3 linked regions of the Homo sapiens genome follow. The protein of the gene in region 1 purifies or fractionates together with the protein of each later gene. This does not show direct contact. Each region holds a gene or a part of one and is shown on either strand. Other genes may lie near its edges.

Region 1 (7,028 bases):
CAAAAAACATAAGGCACAATGTATGGCCTATGAATCACAGAACTTCATCTAGGCTCTGCAGGGTTAAAACTGGGTGCCGCTCGTGCAGTGCAAAGAAAGATGTTAAATCAAATGAGAATGACTACTCCAGGACTGGAAGCACTATTATTTTGAATAAGATTGAAAAGGCCAGAAAAAGCAATTCAAAAACATTTCAATTATGTATTTCCCAGAACTACATCTTTGAGCAACTAATGCAAATGTTACCACCACAATAAAACTTCTTCCCACATATAAAACAGGTTGAACAGCATATACTTTATATATCATATGCATATTTTTGACTATTAATAAAAAATTCAAAATCTATGTATGCTTTACTCTCCTAAGCAATACAGTAATTATGATTAAGGGACAAGCAGCACAAAAAGAGCCAATTTATCTTACTCGTGCTCAGGAATACTATTGTGTAACTAAGCAACTAAAGACAAAATATGGTCTAATTAATTCACTCCTATGCTTATTTAAAAGACACAATTAGAACATTTTTATTTTCCAGCTTGCACAGTAGCTCAACATGCTTGAGGGTGTAGAAAGCAAAGCCCATTATTCTCAAAGACAAGAGTTTAATGTTTAGTGCCACTGATGAGGCTTGGAACTCAACTATGGGGTGGAAGGGGTGTTTCATAGCCCGGGTGTGCTTGGAGTCATGAGAAAAGAAAGGTGGGGGAAAAGATGTTTATGGGGTCACTAGATTGACTAGCAACATTTGGCCTTTGCCGCCTGGGGTTCTTACTGGGGCACAGGAATGGAGATGTGACTGTGAACCTGATGGTCATATGCCAAGGACACACGCCACTGTGCGTCTATTTATACAGCCACAAAGATCCTACAGAAAATTCGCGTAATTAAACCACCCATCCTAGTCTGCGTGATAAATGTCAAATATCCATCTTTAACGCTGCTAACAGTGCATCTGATTTTAAAAGCAGAATTAATTTACCCAAGTGTGTGCGAGAGATTGATGCCATTAGCATGATTCTAAAGCACCCTTTCAATAATCATCATCATCTGCATGTTTGAAATGTGTTGTCGATACTGATGCTCATAGTCCAGGGCATGAGGGATGTATGCTGGAGGGCTAAGACCAAGGTTCTCATCTCCAGCAAGTCAGTGAGGAACACAGCGTGGCCAGAAAAATGCATCCTTGGATTTGTGCAGTGTAGATTCTTCAAGAAATGAGGGAATCCATGACCACATCTCTGAGAGGTGAATGAATCCTTAAGCCAACAATCGATAAATTTGTTTTAAATTTCCTTAAAAGCCAAGGCAACGGGTAGTCACTAGCTACAGTATTATTCTGAGTAGAAGATGGCAAATATCCAACTACACTGGCTATAAAAAATGACAAGTGAATGCATTTGGTTCAAGCAATTATATTCTGGATATTGGTTAAAACTAGACTTTGATAAATGAGCTTGAGTCATATATCACTAGATGCCACTATGAACAATGGCATGCTTTATTAATAATTAATAATGAAGTATTTACATGTATGGACTCTTGTATTTCATAAAAATAACATTTCCTTAGTATGTGTCTGACAGTCTAATTGTCGAGAGGTTTTAATTGCTTACAATTGTGAGGCACTATCAAACATGTGGCTTAGTTAAGACCATCAGCCTGAAAAACATGCTGGCTCGTATGAACTGCCAACCAACACCAGGCGAGGAGTGAATCTTCTTTCCTGAAGTCTAGTCTTTTCATAGGTTGCCACCCCAAAGCCCTGACTTTTTATGGGTTGACTGCTGAGACTGGAAAATTAACAACGAAACAGAGATGCTGCCTCCAGTCTAATCTTTCAAATATTTGCTTGTTTCTTTGGTGAGTGCCCCTGTGAAAAAACCACTTCCCATGTTTTCACATTCTACAGTGCAAAATGACTACAGACTTTGGAAGAGAAAGAAGAAGTGTGAGATGGGGTCGTGGATCTGGCCCACATGTGAATGACTGGTCACTGGTCATCTGCCAGAAAGAAACTGGGTAAAGCTTAAAAAAGGTAGACTGTGTGCAAGAAGGCATTTTAATTATGTCGTTCAGTCACTCAGAAAATACTCACTGAAGGCCAGGCGCGGTGGCTGACGCCTGTAATCCCAGCACTTTGGGAGGCCAAGGCGGGTGGATCACGAGGTCAGGAGATCGGGACCATCCTGGCCAACATGGTGAAACCCCGTCTTTACTAAAAATACAAAAAATTAGCCGGCCGCGGTGGCTGGCGCCTGTAGTCCCAGCTACTCTGGAGGCTGAGGCAGGAGAATGGCGTGAACCCGGGAGGCGGAGCTGGCAGTGAGCCGAGATCGCGCCACTGCACTCCAGCCTGGGCGACAGAGCGAGACTCCGTCTCAAAAAAAAAAAAAAAAAAAAAAAAACTCACTGAATAGCACTAAATATTGCAGAGGACCCAGAGGTGAATAAGGCACAACTGCCTGCTCCTGAGAACAGCACTATGGTGGGGGGAGCATAGGGTCAGGTGACAAGGTAAAGGAAAAGAACACAGATAACTATAAGGCACAAGGTATAAAGTGCACGACAGGTTACAACCAACCACTGGACTATAAGCTCCCTGGGAGCAGTGATTTTTGTCTGTCTTGTTCATGCTGCATCCCCAGGGCCTAGAATAGGATCTGGCACATAATAGGTGCTCTACAAATATGTGTCCAGGAAGTAATAATTCAAAGATGAAGACAGTACTTTCTAATTTCCGGAAAGATTAAGAAATGCTACAAATAAATAGTGATCTCAGTTCGTCTCAACTTAAACTAAGGAACACAGATGGAAAGAGTCTGATGGCCTTTTCTGTGATCACTGTCTGTCTACAAAGGCAGTTTGGGAACTCCTTGAGGGCAGAGGCCATTCTTCTTCTTCTTTTTTTTTTTTTTTTTTTTTTTGAGATGGAGTCTTGCTCTGTTGCCCAGGCTGGAGTGCAGTGGTGCAATCTTGGCTCACTGCAAGCTCTGCCTCCCGGGTTCACGCCATTCTCCTGCCTCAGCCTCCCAAGTAGCTGGGACTACAGGTGCCCACCACCACGCCCAGCTAATTTTTTTGTATTTTTAGTAGAGACGGGGTTTCACCATGTTAGCCAGGATGTTCTCAATCTCGTGATCTGCCTGCCTCGGCCTCTCAAAGTGCTGGGATTACAGGCGTGAGCCACTATGCCTGGCCGAGGCCATTCTCCTTAATCTCTTGTATCCAAGTGCCAGCACACAGTAGGTTTTCAATCAACATCTGAGAAATTTAATGAATTCTTTTTCCAAAAAACATGATGGTTGGGAGCCTTCCTTTGGATGCCTATGACATGTATTATCAGCACAATTTACTGATGTGTTGTGACTCATATTGCTTTTACATTTTTAGACATGTTGATCTCATCTCCTTATCAAGACTGATAAATTTATTCAGAAAAAGGGTCACATCGCAAACTATTTTGCATCTGTCTCTTCACCTAGCAGAGTACTGAGCACATAGAACTTCACGAGTAGTTTTTTATTAACTCAAAATAGACAATACTAATATTGGCTAAAGTTTCGCTCTTAACCATACAAAATATAATTTAATATTATTTCACTCATTCTCAAATTTTAATGTCCTAGAACCAATGGTGAAATTGGATTGGATATGTAAACGTTAATGATATAATATTGAAGTACAATTTCTTATATTACTTAAGTTTCTTATATTTCTGCTATTACTGGTTAATGGCCAAAACTCAAGAAAGAAAAATAGGTACACAATCATCTACCTTATTGCAGATCAACCGCATAGGCCAGGGGTCAGCAACGTTTTTCTTAACAAAGCCAGATAATAAATATTTCTACTTTGTCAGCGATCTGGTAACTGTCAAAACAACTCAACTCTGCTGTTGGAGCCTGAGAGCAGCCATAAACAAATTAGCATGGCCACATTCCAATAAAACTTTATTCACAAAAACAGACAGTGGGCCAGATTTGGCCTTCAGGCCTTACTTGGCTGACTCTTGTCACAGTCCAGTAATTTCTCTCCATGTAATTCTTTACATTCTTATCTTTGTTCTAAAAGGCCTGCTTGGTAGAGAGTAAAGATAAATCCTTTTCTTAGCTTAAGATGATTACTAAAAATAAATAATAACTATTATAAGTGCAACCACTATTCATTGAACTCTCATGTGTAGGTACTATACTATGCTAGATTCCAGACCCTTTTCATTATTATCTCTGATTCCCAGCACAGTTGAGGCCATTAAATCCATTTTACAGAGGAAGAAACAGAGGCTTAAAAAAGTTAAAACAATTGTCTAAGGCCAGTGTGGTCATTTAAGAGGTCTCAGAAATCTCTAAAAAATTACCTTATGGATATAGACCAAGACTGAGGAGCTATCCAAAGAGAAGAGCAAGACTAATCCAGCACCTTCTAAATTCCAGAATGTGTCTGTCTAACTCCAGATATGACCAAATCAGGCAATCTTTTGAAAAAAAAAATCCTGCTGATCCAGTTGACAGTTTACTTCTGCACTAAAATGTAAATCCTTAAGACACTTTTTATTTTGGTGACACAGCTAAAGCCAACATGGAGATGAAAGATAGCCTGATTCGGTAGGATTTGGAAGCCCACATGTCCTAGCAAACTCACCTAGGTGCCATTCCCTCACACGGAAAAACTTTTCAGTAAGCTCCATGGTAGTGGTTTCAAACCTCAGTGAGATTAATGCTAATATTAATGATAATAACAACAGTCAACCATTATTGAAGTATCTACTATGTGTCAACTTTGGGCATATGCATTTTACATATATTAACTTATTTAATCCTTAAAATAATCCTAGGAAATAAGGACCGTATTTCCACTTTACAGATGAGAAAACGGAGGCACAGAGAGTTTAGAACTTGCCCAAGATAACACAGCTAGACTGAGACTGTTTAAATATTTAAAATTCAGACTCCTGGACCCAACTCTAGAGATTCTATTTGAGGAGACTTCAATAGGGGCCCCAGAACATGGATTTTTAGCATTTTTTAATTCAGTAGTGAGGCTGGTGATAACTGAATCACTTTTAGAAATCTGGAATGCATGCTAGAATCTGTAACATCCAGGTATGCCTGATCTTGACTCCTGGACATCATTAGCTTAGCCATCCACAAGCACAGTTGGAGGTGACCAGCAAACCTTCTTATAAAATCCCAGCGATGGCTGGTCAGGCTGAAATCCAAGCTTGCATATCCACCCATTTTAAGAGGGTATACTGCCAATAGATTAAGCACTTGGCAATTGGAAAATGAATGTAATCAGAAGTTATCCAGTAACAGAACCAATTACCCGCCTACTTTGCCATTTTCCTCCTCTGAAGAGCTAGTGGCTGAATGTGGCAATTCTAAGTAATTACTAAAGACACTTAACTCCTTGCACATGGCCCTGCTATTCATTTTCATGGTAATTTAAGATGGTATCATTTTTAGGTCCAAGAACCTCCACACAGACACAAGTTTTTTTTTTATTGTTTATAAAATTAAGAATATCTAGAACAAAGGTCACTATAATCATAATTATTTTCTATTTATTTAAGTACTTTATAGTATATAAAGCTCTTTTGCCTATAAATCCTCTTGATCTTCACCAACAATCTATAGTCATCCCTACTTTGTTCCCATTTTGCAGCTGAAGAAACTGAGGTTCCAAGTACTTATGGTTGTTCAAGATTAAGCAAATAGCAAGCTGCAGAATCAAAATGTGACTTTCTTGAATGCTTTTCCTCAACACCAGTTGCGAACACTGGAAGTATTATATATGAAGGCATTGGTGTATATAAGCATATAAATCATCACCATCATCATTAAAATGAATAGTAAGTTGTTAATGCTCATTAATAACTATTAAAATATAACTGTTATCATTATATACCACTGATTAGAATTAGCTTAACTTTACAGGATAAGGATAGTTTTGCTACCTAGACATCTGGTGACCTTTGGCAAAACTGATTAACTAGTTACAATTCTAAAATGTCTGAGGGACTGTTCACATTAGTACACACTTCTAGAATGTAATATGATGAATTCAAGCTCTGCTTTCAAGGGTAGGTTTCACTGGGGAGAAAAGATAACCTTGAATTTCAAGGAGGCCTGGGTTCTAGCCTGGTGACCTTTGACAAACCACATAACCTTTCCGAGTCTATGTCCCCATCTGTAAAATGGGTGTACAAAGTCCTGCCTTATCCAGCCTCCCACAATTTATTACAAAAATCATGAGAAAATATTCCAAAAAAAAAAAAACCCTCTGCAAATCACAGCAAACCACACAGGGACGCTATTTCTAATCTTGCACAATGATCATTTTTCTGCTTTTAGAACTGACGTCTTTACATTTCAAGAAATCATAAAAAGGCAGAATGATTCTCTTAAACCAAAAAAAGCATACTGAGTCCTGGCTGTCCTTTCGAAATGGATGCTGATGTCAGCTCAATCAAGAAATTATTAATCTCCATTTGGTTACTTAAAATAAACTGTACTGGCTGATTAAATGTGCTGAACATTTTCTCCAAGTAACAGTGCATATCACCAAGAAACCTTTCTCTTTCAGTTACACATTGCAAATGGCAAATGCATCATTCAAAACTATTTAAAATCAATAATAAAAATCATTTAAATGTATATAAACAAGTTAATGGAATAAGTGAAAACAAAGCAAATTTCTTAATGAGAGGGCCCTGTTGCCCCCTCTAGGTGCCAGCAGTAAATGCTGGTTTCTGTAAGGCTCTCCTCCAGAGAAGACTGCTGCTGCTATTCTGCTAATGAATGACTAACTTAGGCCAGGGGGGAAATGACATCACCAGGGTGGAAAACCGATCTGCATTGGGAAACTTTCTACCTGCTTTACATTTGTCATAATTATTTTGCACAATGCAGTCTGCATTTGCATAATTTTGAGGCGTGTCATTATCTCAATTGAAAATTGTTTTAATATGGCTGAATAATTCACAATGACATCAGCCAAAGTCCTAATGAAATATACAAGTATAA
Region 2 (7,028 bases), on another chromosome or scaffold:
CTGCAATCCCAGCACTTTGGAAAGCCAAGCTGAAAGGATCCCTTGAGCCCAGGAGTTTGAGACCAGCCTGAGCAACATAGTGAGACCTCATTTATACTAAAAGTAAAAAAAGTAGCCTGGTGTGGTGGCATGCACCTGAGGCAGGAGGATCGCTTGAGCCCAGGAGTTTGAGGCTGAAGTAAGCCATGATCACTCCACTGCACTCCAGCCTGGGTAACAGAGTGAGACGCTATCTCAGAAGGAAAAAAAAAAAAGCAAGGAAAGAAAAGAAAGAAAGAGATTGGCAAACTATAGTACAAGTAACAAATGTGGCCCACCACCTGCTTTATAAAGTATTACTGGAACACAGGCATGCCCATTCATTTATGCATGATTTATGGCTGCTTTCCAGCTACAATGGCAGAGCTGAGTAGTTGTGACAGAGATAGTATGGCCCACAAAGCCTAGAACATTTACTATCTGGCTCTTTACAGAAAAAGTGTAATGACTTCATGGTCTACATAAGATTCCAGTTTGTGCTACAAAAATTAATTTAAGTAATTTCCTACAATTTGTATCAAAAACAAAAAAAAGCATATCTTACTCTAGAAATAGCTTTCTTAAAATTTTTCTGTAATAAACAGAAAATGCCTAAAAAATATTTACAGCTAAACAAATGCTTCTTTTTTCATGTAATCATGAAATAAAAGCTGAAATCCTGCATATATACAGTTCTACCACAAGTATATAGACTTCATTTCCCCAGCTAAAGATGGTCATTATCTGCTTTCTCATCTTCTCTCACCCACCACCAGAAGCATTCTCTTCTTTCAGCTGCATTCCCTCTATTTCAACTGAAAAGAATGTTGTTTTCTGAGCCAGGCAGTATTTCTCTCTTTTCCTTTTTCTCTGCTGACTTTTCTTTACCTAGTTTCCCTTCTAAAATAGGAGTCCTCGGCATAGGTTTTCTGCACCCTATTGTTAAAGAAACATACAAATTTAACAAATAACTCAAACCCTCTGGAAGAGCATAATAGAAAGAGAAAAGCAGTAAAATTACCCAAGGAATATGGAGTACCTTAGTACAGCCTTCCTAGAATACAGTCAAAACCGATATAAACCTTACTCCTTTAGCCATACAATACTAAGACACCTTTAACTTTGATAAAAGCTAGGAATGGCTATACTGGTGAAGCTGTTTTCTAGCAATAGTAACTTTATTCAAATAAAAGCACATAAAGCAGAGAGAAATAGCAAACTGGTAGAATGGTCTTATTGTCTAAAATAAGTGAAATTTACATTTATACAAAAAGCACTTGAGTATCTAAGACAGAACGTCTGAAAAGCAAAGCATAACTCACAAATAGTGTAAGAAATTAAAAATGCATTTCAGTGAAGATGAAATCATTTTGACAGAGGTTTTTAAAGAACAATAAAGAGCAACTATCCCTTTTTTAAATTAACTACCAGCTTGAAAGTCTCAATTTTAAAAAGGTATTTGTGGACATAGAGAGGTTCATTATACTATTTTCTCTACTCTTGCATATGTTGAAATTTTCTGTAAGTTTTTAAAAAGATGCATAAATCAAAGAAAAAGAGAAACTGAAGTTTTAATGTCTAAAAACAAGCTATTGGTAGATATTCGTCAGAAGAAAGAAGACCTGTAAGGAGAAAAAGAAATATACTCTGGACCAAGAAGAATTCATCTATGCAAAAGCTGCCTCAGAGTAGGAAGCACACAAATCTCCCAATGAGCAATTAAAAACTCCACCAACAACACTTTCAATAGTAAAATTTTAAAACTCACAGTATAATAGTTTGAAGTAGTCTTAACAGAACTCAGACATGTCTTTAAAAGACAAAAAAAAAAAAAAAAAAAAGAGGTCCCAACACTTTGGGAGGCCAAGGAGGGCAGATTGCTTGAGCCCAGAAGTTCAAGACTAGCCTGGGCAACATGGTGAAACCCCCCTCTACAAAAAATTAGCTAGGCATGATGGTGCACACCTGTAGTCCCAGCTACTCAGGAGGCTCAGGGGAGAATCACCGGAGCCCTGGAGTTTAAGGCTGCAGTGAGCCATGACCGCGCCACTGCACTCCAGCCTGGGTGACAGAACAACACGCTGTCTCAAAAAAAAAAAAAAGTACAATCATTTTAACAGGCTTCTTCAGGATGTCATATACAAATTATCTTTGAACTCTATTATCATCAGTTTATAGCAAGGTAAATTTTACCTAACTAAGCCTTCAGGTTTCCAATAAGAATTAAATTCCTGTGATTAAAAAAATAATAAGCATCTACCACAGAGGAAATGCTTTCAAACTAAAATATGAGTTGTGATTTTTAAGTCCAGGAGCTCAATGCCTCCACTTTCTTCACTACTACCTAATTAAGATCCCAGATCAATTTAATACTTGAAAAAAAAACTGCTTGATTTGTTCATACCTCTTTCTTCCTCATGTTTTTTGGCAGATGCACTTTTAGGTCTTCCTCTTCCTCGTCTGATATGATCTGAATGGCTGTTACTTCGAGACCTCTTTCTGTTTTCTAAATCTTTATTTACTGTAGAATTTATCTTCTCTCTCCTAACTCTCTCTGTTCGCCTCCTCTTGGCCTCATGCTTGTTTTCTGTATGGATGAATAAAAGTGATATATTTTAGGGCTTAGCAAGAACTGTTTGCCCAAGTTCTCATTGTCTTCCTTTTTCTTTCTAAATAGCACTAGAGTATGCTTCCTGGCATATTTCATAGAACTACAACCATAACATATATGTCTCCCCCACACCCTCATAAGAAAAAAAGAAATTCAATAGAATTCAGATCACAATAACACATGAAGTAGGAGGAATCTTGGAAGAGAAAACAAGTTTCTTCATTTGGCAGCTTAAATTTCAGCCTCTACAAGTTCACACAATTCCATAGCAACCTTTCTGCCTTTTTCTTCCTGTTTCCAAGCTAAAAATAGTGAAATATTAAGAAAGGAAAAAAACTGCATGCCCTTTTGCCCTCTACCTGAGTTAAAGATTAAAATATGTGAAATATGCAAAAGCAAAACTGATCTTAGAGATAACGTATTAAGGTTACAATAAAAATCAAACAGAAAGCATCCATAACAAATATAAAAACCCTAGGCAAGTGAGTAATTTTCACTTTAGCCACAGATAAGGTAATTTCTGATATAAGAGCATGTTGTTCCATAAATGGAATAGCAATAGGGAAACTTTACTAAATATGGTGATTTAATTAGTGCAAGAAGCCACCCCTCCCACTCTAAACAAATCAAAATGTTGGATAAGACAAACAATAAACTTAAAGAAAAAAACAAAACAAAAACAAAAAAGATGATACCTTGCTTTAACACATACCTGCACTCAAAAGCAAGAAAGAGAATTCCCCAAATGCCAAAAATCTCAGTGGTAAAGGGGCAAAACAAACAGAAAAATTCATATCCAAAGAACTAAAGGGAACAATGTGAAAGACTATAAAATAAGTATGCTTAATAGACTGCTGTAAAAAAATTAAAAGTAAAATAGTAATATTATCCCCAAACACCATATCCTTGGAGAATTAATCTGAAGTTTCAAATTAGACATATACCAGATAATACAAGAATATTTAATTATCCCAGATTGCAAGAAAGTTATCAAAGACAAGCAGGGTGTTGTTAAGACTTGGGCTAACATGAAGAGGCTCCCACTATTACAGGACAATTTGAGCATCAATAAAAATAGTAACTGTAACAGATTGAAATATATCAAGCATATGAGTACATTAACATTAAAAACAAAAACTACTTGGCCACCATACGAAGATACTAAAGAACCAACTCATTACTTTGAAAACTTAAATATAGGGCAAGAACAAAGCATTTCTTCTGCTTTTTCTATTTAAACTGTGCTACTCACGGGGTAACCAAAGGGCAAATGAAGAGGTTTCTCATATTAAAGCTAATAAATGAAGAAGGAATGACAGAATCAGAGTATCAACATTTTTCAACCTGCAATGAACTAAAGGTTCTAAGCACTAAACATCAGCAGGTACTAACATCACTAAAAGAGAGAAGCAGGCCAGGCGCGGTGGCTCACACCCATAATCCTAGCACTTTGGGTAGCCAAGGCGGGTGGATCACCTGAGGTCAGGAGTTCGAGACCAGCCTGACCAACATGGCAAAACCCCGTCTCTACTAAAAATACAAAATTAGCTGGGTGTGGTGGCACGTGTCTGTAATCCCAGCTACTTGGGAGGCTGAGACAGGAGAATCGTTAGAACCTAGGAGGCAGAGGTTGTGGTGAGCTGAGATAGCACCATTGTATTACAGCATGAGCAACAAAAATGAACTCCATCTCAAAAAAAAAAAAAAAGAGAGAGAGAAGCAGACTTTAAGCACCTCTGGATAGAGGTACACATCACTACCTATTAAGTAGTCTTGTAAAAAAAAAAAAATTCCAATCTCTCCAGCCCTTAGATCTAACTTACAACTAATAGGAAAAAGAGGTTATTCAAGGAATATGTTAAGTGACACCATGGGGATACAAACAGCACATACAAATGGACAGGTGATGCCATTTCTTCAACATCTAACTTGCAAGGAGAAAAAGAGAAAATAATAGATAATAAGAGGGTTAAAAAAGATATAATCTAGCCAGGCTCAGTAGCTCATGCTTGTAATCCAAAAGCACTTTAGGCATTTGGGAGGCCGAGGCAAGAGTATTGCTTGAGGCCAGGAGTTTGAGACCAGCCTGGGCCACATAGCAAGACCCTGTCTCAGCCTGGGTGACAAAGCGACACCCTGTTCTTAAACAAATGACAGGGTGTGGTGGCTCACGCCTGTAATCCCAGCACCTTGGGAGGCCAAAGGGGGCGGATCACCTGAGTTCAGGAGTTCGAGACCAGCCTAGCCAACATGATGAAACCCCATCTCTACTGAAAATATACAAATTAGCCAGGCATGGTGGTGTGCGCCTGTAGTCCCAACTACTCAGGAGGCCAAGACATGAGAATTGTTTGAACCCAGGAGGAAGAGGCTGCAGTGAGCTGAGATCGTGCCACTGCACTCCAGCCTGGGTGACAGAGCGAGACTCTGTCTCAATAAATAAATAAATAAATAAATAAATAAGATAGCACCCATATGCAATTTGTGGACCTTATTTAAAATCTGTTTTTAAAATTCTAAGACAATTTTTGAGAAAAGTGAAAATGTGAACACAAGTCGGATATTTATTAATAAGAAATTATCATTAATTTTTTATGTTATAATGGCATTGTGCTTACATTTTTTAATGTTCATCTTTTGGAAACATAATGAAATATTTATAACTGAAATTATATGGGATTTGCTTCAAAATGATGCAAAGGAAGAGGTAGACAGGATTGTGGATGGGGCAGGGTTGGTCATTTTCTACTTTTGCATATGCTTAGAATTTCTCAAAAAAATAAAGGTTAAAAGAACTAGTGATAGATGAAGCTTTAAATAGTATGCCTATTAAAGTCTAACACTGAATTTGGGTTTGTTCCCCCAGCTACCCAGTCATCTCTGCAAACTTCTTCACAGCCAAACTTCTCAAAAGAGGTACCTGTACTTTCTGCCTTCAGTTTTTCATCTCCCATTCACTCATCAAATCTATTCCAGTATAGTTCCTATCCCACTGAAACTGACTGTCAAAAACAACAAAAACCTGTTACCAAATCTTAATAGACACCTCACTTACCATCTTACACCATCTCTCAAAAATTCAACAAAGATGACTACTACTTTCCTTGAAATTATTTTGCTTGATTCTCAGGCTCCCCCAGTTTCTTCACCTCATCAGTCACTCCTCCTAATCGCCTTTGCTGTGTGCCCTTCCCCTAGGTGCTTTCCCAATCTAACGTCAAGGCCCCAGGATTCTGTCCAGAGCCCTCTTCTCTTACTTAGACTTTGCCTAGATCATCTCGTAAACCCACAGCATTAAACACTATTGTTATGATGGCTCCAAAGTTTTCACCTTCTGCTCTGATTTCTTCCCTAAACTCTAGACTGCCTACCTGACAACTTCACTTGAATGTCTCAAAGGCATTTCAAATTGTATCAAAAAATAACTCTTGGTTCTCCCTCTCCCAAATCTGTTACTCCTACTACTTTCATCATATTAGTAAATAGCATCACCTGGTTGTACTAGTCAAATAACTTGTAGTCGTTTGTGACTCATCTTGCTTCCTGTACCATCGCTAAGGTCCACAGATACTCCTTGCAAAATATACCCATAATCTCTTCATTTCTCTCCACCTCCACAGGCAACATCCCAGTCAAACCTATTCTCTACGTACCAGCCAATATTATCTTAAAAAAAAAAAAAAAAAAATCAAACTGCATAGCTTCCCTTCTAAAGCCTTTCATAAGCTTTTTTCCATATTTAAACTAAAAATTCCTTACCAAAGACAAGTCCCCAACAGATCTGGCATTTGCCTCTTTCTCCAGTCTCATGATGCTCAAGCTCACCACTTTGTTCACTACACTCCAGACGTGCCTTTCTTTTAATAAAACGAGCTCCTTCCTCCGCTGAGTCTATGTATACGCTAATCCTTCTGCCTAGAGCTCTCTTCCCACGGCTCTTCATAAGATAAGCCTTTTTTTCTCTTCAGATATCCATATACAGGTCACTTGCTCTGATTCTCCCAGCCCAAGTTACTTCCTGTAATCTACTACAGCTATAATCTGTTATTTATTTACTTATATGCTCAATGCGTCTCCTCCATCAAAATATAGGCTTTATGAAACTTGGGAATCCTTGGCCTACCTTATTTGCAGAACCCAGAACATTACTTACACAGACTGTTGAATAAATAAAATCGGATAGGACACACATTTACCTTACCACCTTCTCAAAATCCCATTGAATGAGAAGAAACATGGGAAGAGGGGAAGGAGAAAAAGGAAAATATATCTGTGGTGCTGGAAACAAGAAAAAGGTACTATTAATGACCCAAAATTACAGAATTTCAGCAAACTGGCAACCTGATGGTTCTGATAAGAAACAAGAATAAAATAAACTACAATCCAAAAATAGGAGTAA
Region 3 (7,028 bases), on another chromosome or scaffold:
TAATGATATGCTTGTCTCATACATAATATGAACTGTAGTTTACAATATTTCATAAGACACTGAAAAGTCTAAATGCCTTATTTATGAAGATATAATAGATGGTAAAGTTTAATGTGTATTATAAAAGCAAGATTTTATCACTCTCGGCCTTCTGGTTAAGATCAAGTATATAAAAGCAAGATTATCAAAATAATAATTAACTCAAGAAAAATCTAGAAAAGCTTAGCAAAAATGTATATATAGCTCTTAAGGAAAAAATTAACTCACGTTACACCAGGATGAAGATTATATTTCTTCTTTCCAAATCGTGTTTGCTGAGCAAAGAAATCATAACGTTCAGATTTTTTCCACATGTAATAGAATGCTACACATTCACCAACTGACCTTGTTCGGACCTGTAAGAAACAAATGCTTGCTTTTAAGAATCTCCTTTTTAACAAAGTTACTTCATGATAAACATCTGAAGTTTGAAAATAAATTTGGCTAGTCCTTAACTGAAATATAATCCTATATATAACATACAACAGTGTAGCAGCTATGTTGAAAGCTATTCTTTCTAAACATCTATTAAGAGAAATAATATATTGGCAACAGGTCTTCAGATATACAGCACTGTGCTTTTTAAAATGCTACCATCATCCTAATTTACTAGAAAAATATATTCCTGTATTAAAAATGCTTGGAAGTTGGCCGGGCACGGTGGCTCACGCCTGTAATCCCAGCACTTTGGGAGGCCAAGGGGGGTGGATCACGAGGTCAGGAGTTCAAGACCAGCCTGGCCAAGATGGTGAAACCCCATCTCTACTAAAAATACAAAAATTAGCCGGGCATGGTGGCAGGTGCCTGTAATCCCAGCTACTCGGGAGGCTGAGGCAGGAGAATCACTTGAACCCCAGCAGGGGGTGGGGGTGGGGGCAGAGGCTGCATTAAGCTGAGATCACACCACTGCACTCCCACCTGGGTGACAGAATGAGACTCAGTCTCACACACACACACACAAAAAAAAGGCCTGGAAGTGGCATTCATGTTAAAATAAATGTTATAAACAGTTTGCTAATACTTTTACTCACAGAGTACGGGTACCTAGGGAGCGTATCTTTAAATTCCCTTTTGAAAGATTCTCTTACTAGTCCCAACAGCAACCCAGACTCAGTTAATTTACTCTCTAGAAAGTCTGGGAAGATGCCACAGTGAGTTAAAAGTATCATAATAATGCTAATGCTTTGTTTACTAAGTTACTCTTGCGGCTTACTGTGCTGTACCTATTTGTGCAACTGAATGGCTCCCCTCACATAATGTTAAATGCCTACGGAATTAAATGATGCTGACAGAATTCCTTTTTGTTACTTAGCCGGGAGAACTGGTGGTAGGGTTGATGTATATATATAAAATACTGAGGATTTAGGGCTGATGTATATAAATAAAATACTGATAACTTTTTTCCTTTCTTTTTCTTTTTTTTTTGAGATAGTGTCATGCTCTGTTGCCCAGGCTGGAGTACAGTGGCACCAAACCGCTAACTGCAGCCTTGCCCTCCCAGGCTCAAGCAATCCTCCTGCCTCAGCACCCTCAATAACTGGGACCACAATTGCATGCCACCAAACTCAGGTAATTTTTCTATTTTTTGTAGAGATGGGGTTTTGCCATGTTGCCTAGGCTGTTCTTGAACTCCCAGGCTCAAGCAATCTGCATGCTTCAACCTCCCAAAGTACTGAGATAACAGGCATGAGCCACTGCACCGGCAATACTGACCATTTAAAAGGAAATCCAGTGTCTGTATGTGTTCTGGATGCAATATACTTCTTTATCCCATAAATTTCTGCTCTTGAAGTAAATATTCTGTAGCACTGATTGCACCTAAAGGACAAATGTTGATGATACCCTCCCTTACCCAACATATATTTTGCTTTCTTCCCGTTTGCACTGTACAGCTCTGATCCATATTGCTCTGAGACTGACAGCAATCAGGACTTTAAAAAAAATCATCCTCTCAAGCTGTTTTTTGTCTCCTCTAGGATCTTATTTCTAGATAGATTCGAACTAAGTCAACTGTACTTTACTGAAAGCAAAAAGATAAAGTCATTTTGGGGCATGCAAAGTTAAGATTATGAAAAATCTTCAACAAAAGCCCTCAAAATAGAACTTATGATTAAGATCTGAACTTTAATTCCAGACATAAAAACAAACTCGATATTCTCACTAGAGTACTCGTCTCCCTTTTAAAGAATTACTGTCCTCTTTTTGTGCACTAGAGTAATTTAGTGTATTATGTAGAGGTCAGCTGACTTCTACCTTGTAACATTTAAATGCCACTGTCCCAAATATTTATGAGAAATCAAGGTTATACTTTTAATACTTATGTTACTTGGCTCTAAGTTTCAAGTCACCTATAATTTCTTAACTCCTTTAAAAAAATCATATTGGTCAGGGTTGTTGCTGCTGCTTGTTACATAAGCTATCATTCCAGGGGTCCCTTCCTTAGGTAATTCAGCATGGTTTGGTTAAGAGTGTTTTAATTCAAGCAGAAGTGTTAAAAAACAACAACAACAACAACAAAAAAAAAACCTCATCCAAAAATGTTGTCCCTTTCAACCATGAAACAACGAACTTTTTTCTTTTTTAATCAAAAACATACACGGCCAGTCACATAATGCACTCCTTTTCTTGAATGTTAACTATATTTGAGGTTATCAGATGATATGAACACAACATTAGGGGTATACATTTTTGAAACTAATTACATTGTCTTCTAAGTTATCCTAAATGCTAAAACTAAACATTTCTCTATTAGTGTTATCTGCGGTAAACTGCCAACATTCAACAAAATAATTAAGAATGAACTAATTGGGAGTGGGGCTCTTCACTGCCCAGTTCCCACTTAAAAAAAAAATAATAAAAATAAGAATAAACTAGTTAATGCACGACAAAATTTAAGAAATGAACCCACAGGATTTGTAAATATTTTATTAATAACAAAAAATATTAAATATGTGTCAAAAAAATCAACTGGATACAATCCAATCACATCCAAATGTATAAAAAGAGAGCTGTGGCAGAAGACTATTCAGAGCCTCAGACATAAGCCCAGGTACTTTCAACAAGGTCCTGGACAAGCTACGACACAAAACTTAGAAGCTATCTTTAAGGAATTACATAAACCAATACCCTTGTCATTTCTACTAACTAAAAATAATGTGATAATCATAAGCCTGGGAATTAATTTCCTACATTTAATCTCCAAGACTTTAATTCTGCCTGTCCTAATCTGTTGTCCTAATGTGTTGCTCATGGAAACAACACATTTTTCTATTCTATATAATTATATGGTTACTATTAAAAATCATACCTAATTTCAGTTATAAGAATTAAGCCCCAAAACAAATCTGTAAGTAATTATAAAGCTATTTGGAGTATAAATTACATGACTGATATTATCAACATGAAATGATAAATGATTATGTTAAATAAAATCCTCAAATTATAACTATAAGAATATAAAGCTGATTTATCGACACAGAAGCTCCTAGAAAATTAAATGTTGACTAAAACTAAGTTAAATATTAAGTATTTGATTTTAGACCACTCAGGACTTAAGCAAATGTAATAAATATTTTAACTGCAAATAATGTCATATTGAAAGTGCTTTAAAGTTTCCAAATCATTTCAAAGGCCCTCCATAAAACAGTCACAGACTGTGGAAAACAGCTATAAAGAATTGCATTGCACATACACACCCCAACTAGAAGTTGATTAACATGCTTGTAAATGAGTACAATTCTTAAACACCTGCAATATGATGCACTGAAAACAGTCACCAACAGGTAATTATAGGTTAGGAAGTATAGGCAGCCTTACTATAATTACTCACTAAATACCAAAATATTGTCATATTAATTATGAAACCTTTAACACTAGACAATATAACAAATTACGATACATGACCATTTGAGTTGTTCAACTAAATTTCTTTTTGCAAAAAAGAGATTATCATTACTTACTTTATTAGCCTGAATCAAATGAAAATCCTTTCCATAGGCCTTCAGCCCTTGTTCAAAATTTCTACACTCTTCCTCTGTCCAAACAGATAATTCCTCTGACAAGATGGGAGGAACAAACTGTTAAGCAATATTCCCCCAATTATTGCATATAACAAAATTACAAATGAAAACTTAACCTTCTCGTAAAAATGAGGGAAGCATTTTACTCCTGAGCTCTATTACTAATTGTTGCAAAAGATAAAGTGACAACAATTCCTTATTTAATAAGATTTTGAATGATTTGGTCCCTACCTCTCCAGCTTCAACTTGTGCCACTTTCTTCTTAATTCTTACTGATCAAACTATCTCAGCCACCTTTCAATTCCTTAAATTTGCCATGTTCTTTCTTACTTCAGACTTTGTGCATGGTGTCTCTCCTTTGCTTAGAATTATTTCCTGCCTCATCCCCTTTCACTGAGATAATTCTTTTGCATCCCAACAAAAATATTACTTCATTCTGAATGCTTTCCCTAAAAGCACTACCCTCTCTGCAAATAGGTTAAGTCCCATTACTACAGGTTTCAATAGCACCCTCTAATTTTCCTTGAAGAATTCATCAGCTATTTTCCAGTTTCCCTACCTAAGCTCTAAGCACCACGAGGGGAAGGGACTTTGTTTATAGTTACATCCTCAGAATTCAGAAGGCACTCAAATTTTTGTTAAATAAATATCTCTCATTTGTTACATATCTATATATATATATATATATATATATATGTAGTGTATATATATATATGTAGTACTCTTAGTGAAGGGGGGTAGGAGCCAGATATAGTATAAAAAAGAAAAATCCAAATTTTAGTCATGGCTTCATTACTGATGAATTATGTTTGCTTTCGCCAAGTTACTTTAGTTCAGAGATCTCAGGCTCATCAATTTTTACCTTTAAGTAAAGGTATTATCTGTCATACTACCTAGTTCATAGGGCAATTATCAAGATCAAATAAGAAAATATTTATAAATATGCCTTGAATGCATAAGGCAGTATAAATTTTTACATTTTTACTTACATGACTGTATTTTCCCACAAAGGAGGAAGGGACAATCTTAATCCCACTCCCCGTAACGATTTGTTTAGTAATACTTGGTATTTTGTAAATATTTATCAAACTCAGAAAAATCAGTATTATTAAGTTTAGGCTATACCTAGGTAAACTGAAAAGCTTAATTTTAAAATTTCTGCCAAATCATGAAAATGAATAAAAACTATACTTACCTCTAGCTGCTTTTACATTAAATCTTAATCTTCTCAATGCTTCTTCTGTATCAAAATTGCATTTAACCAATTCATATAAAGCCTAGAAAAATAAAAGGCTTGAATATGTGACAAGGACTATAAACAGTTCAATGCTACAATTTCTTAAAAGTTTTTCAAACATCCAGTGTTTTCATCCTTTTTGAGGGCAAATAACTTTAGTGAATGTTATATATAGAGAACTCCAAAGAAAAACAAATATGAATTCGATCCTGATAAATCAACTACCTTTAAATATGTACAAAGTAGGATATGCATAAACTTGGTGGCCATAGTATCCCTAGGACTAAAAAGAATTCATTTTATATCAATGAAAATCCCTTCTTTGTGGCTTCTTGAGATTCCTATAATTTTAAACAAATCAGAAAAAAACAATGATTAAAAAGGTAAAAAAGATAGGTTCATGGTAGGCACTGGTCTTACCATGTACATAAGATAATCCGAGGTGAGAATTCCAACTTGATATACACAGATTCTTAGGGATAGCCAAAGGAATTTTAAAAAGCCTAATGAAAAGTATATACAGGCAAAATAAAACAGGTTTTTGTTTCGTTTTTGAGCTTCACACCAATGAAGTCACTGTGGTAACAACGGATATCTTACAGGGATTATAACCTCAGATTCCCTGTCAATAATGTTATAAAAAGTTTGGTGGACAGAATAACAACAATGCAAGTGACAGCATTTACATGTATAAATGTGTATGGCAAAGTTCTAACAGTTGTTTCTTTCACAGACCTGTTCATTGTCTTTTATGTGAGATCCTTCAGGAATTGCTTCTACACCCTTCTCATCACCTGTTCTTCTAGATGCATCTTTAAGAAATATAATCACTTTATCTTCTGGTAAGTACTCAGGGTCCCACAGGAGCTGATCATCATTTTCATATACTAAATTAGTAAAAGACAATGTTAAACAAATTTCTAAAAACTGATAGAGTTTGTGTTAAAACATATTACTAAATAAACAACTCAGAGCCAAATGTTGAGAACTGAGGTACAGTGTGGTTCTACTACTTGCCTGACTTCGTTCTTGGGCAAAAACTATAGTTTAAGTAAATTAAACAATTTAAACAGAGAGGAGGTACCACTTTATGCCCCCTGCAGATCCAGTCTGACTTTATCTTGAGTTTACCAAATTCCAAGCTCTCTTGGTTGAATACCATCTCTACCACTTATTACATGTATGATGACCTTGGGCAAATTATTTCCCTTCTGTCTCATCTGTGAAAGGAGGTAACAATAACTCTACCACATAGTTTTAAGGATTTAAAGCACTTTACAATCATTCTGGCACATACTAAAATCCTGTAATTGTAACTGTAACTATTATTTTTGAAAATATGTCTAGAAGAATGCTCACCAAATGTTAACACTGCTTAATTCCTGGTGGTGGGATTTGAAGTAAATTTTACTTTATGTTTTCTGTGATGCTTGAGTTGTATAATGTATATAAATCACTTTCACAAAAACAAGTCATTACTTTTTTAAAGGTATTTAAGTTTCATCATAATTTCCATTATAAGAAGATGAAAGCCTAAATCTAATTAAAACTCAAAAAGTAATGAAAGGAGGATGACCTAAGACAAAGCCTGTGGAATTCCAAATGATAAGAAGAAAACATGGATAAAATTCAAAAGTCACAAACAGAAGAAATACCAAGAATGTAACATCACAGATGCTAAGGGAAGAGAGTGTTTCAAAGAATAGCTTCAAAGACTGGTTAAATTCTGTTGA

What was found. The genes of interacting proteins can lie anywhere in the genome.
Region 2: the proteins of ARID5B (region 1) and C16orf87 purify together in Homo sapiens (co-immunoprecipitation; 3 studies listed by BioGRID and IntAct, with this or other methods). This does not show direct contact.
Region 3: the proteins of ARID5B (region 1) and MIER1 purify together in Homo sapiens (co-immunoprecipitation; 2 studies listed by BioGRID and IntAct, with this or other methods). This does not show direct contact.

What each region holds. Positions count from the first base shown.
Region 1 is NC_000010.11:61,904,699-61,911,726, reverse strand, and holds part of ARID5B (AT-rich interactive domain-containing protein 5B), read right to left. Parts: intron 1-7,028. UniProt on the Homo sapiens protein: Transcription coactivator that binds to the 5'-AATA[CT]-3' core sequence and plays a key role in adipogenesis and liver development.
Region 2 is NC_000016.10:46,807,181-46,814,208, forward strand, and holds part of C16orf87 (UPF0547 protein C16orf87), read right to left. Parts: intron 2,606-7,028; coding exon 2,423-2,605; intron 955-2,422; exon of another isoform or gene 789-954; intron 1-788.
Region 3 is NC_000001.11:66,969,962-66,976,989, reverse strand, and holds part of MIER1 (mesoderm induction early response protein 1), read right to left. Parts: intron 6,183-7,028; coding exon 6,031-6,182; intron 5,336-6,030; coding exon 5,254-5,335; intron 4,094-5,253; coding exon 3,999-4,093; exon of another isoform or gene 1,472-3,998; intron 396-1,471; coding exon 268-395; intron 1-267. UniProt on the Homo sapiens protein: Transcriptional repressor regulating the expression of a number of genes including SP1 target genes. Probably functions through recruitment of HDAC1 a histone deacetylase involved in chromatin silencing.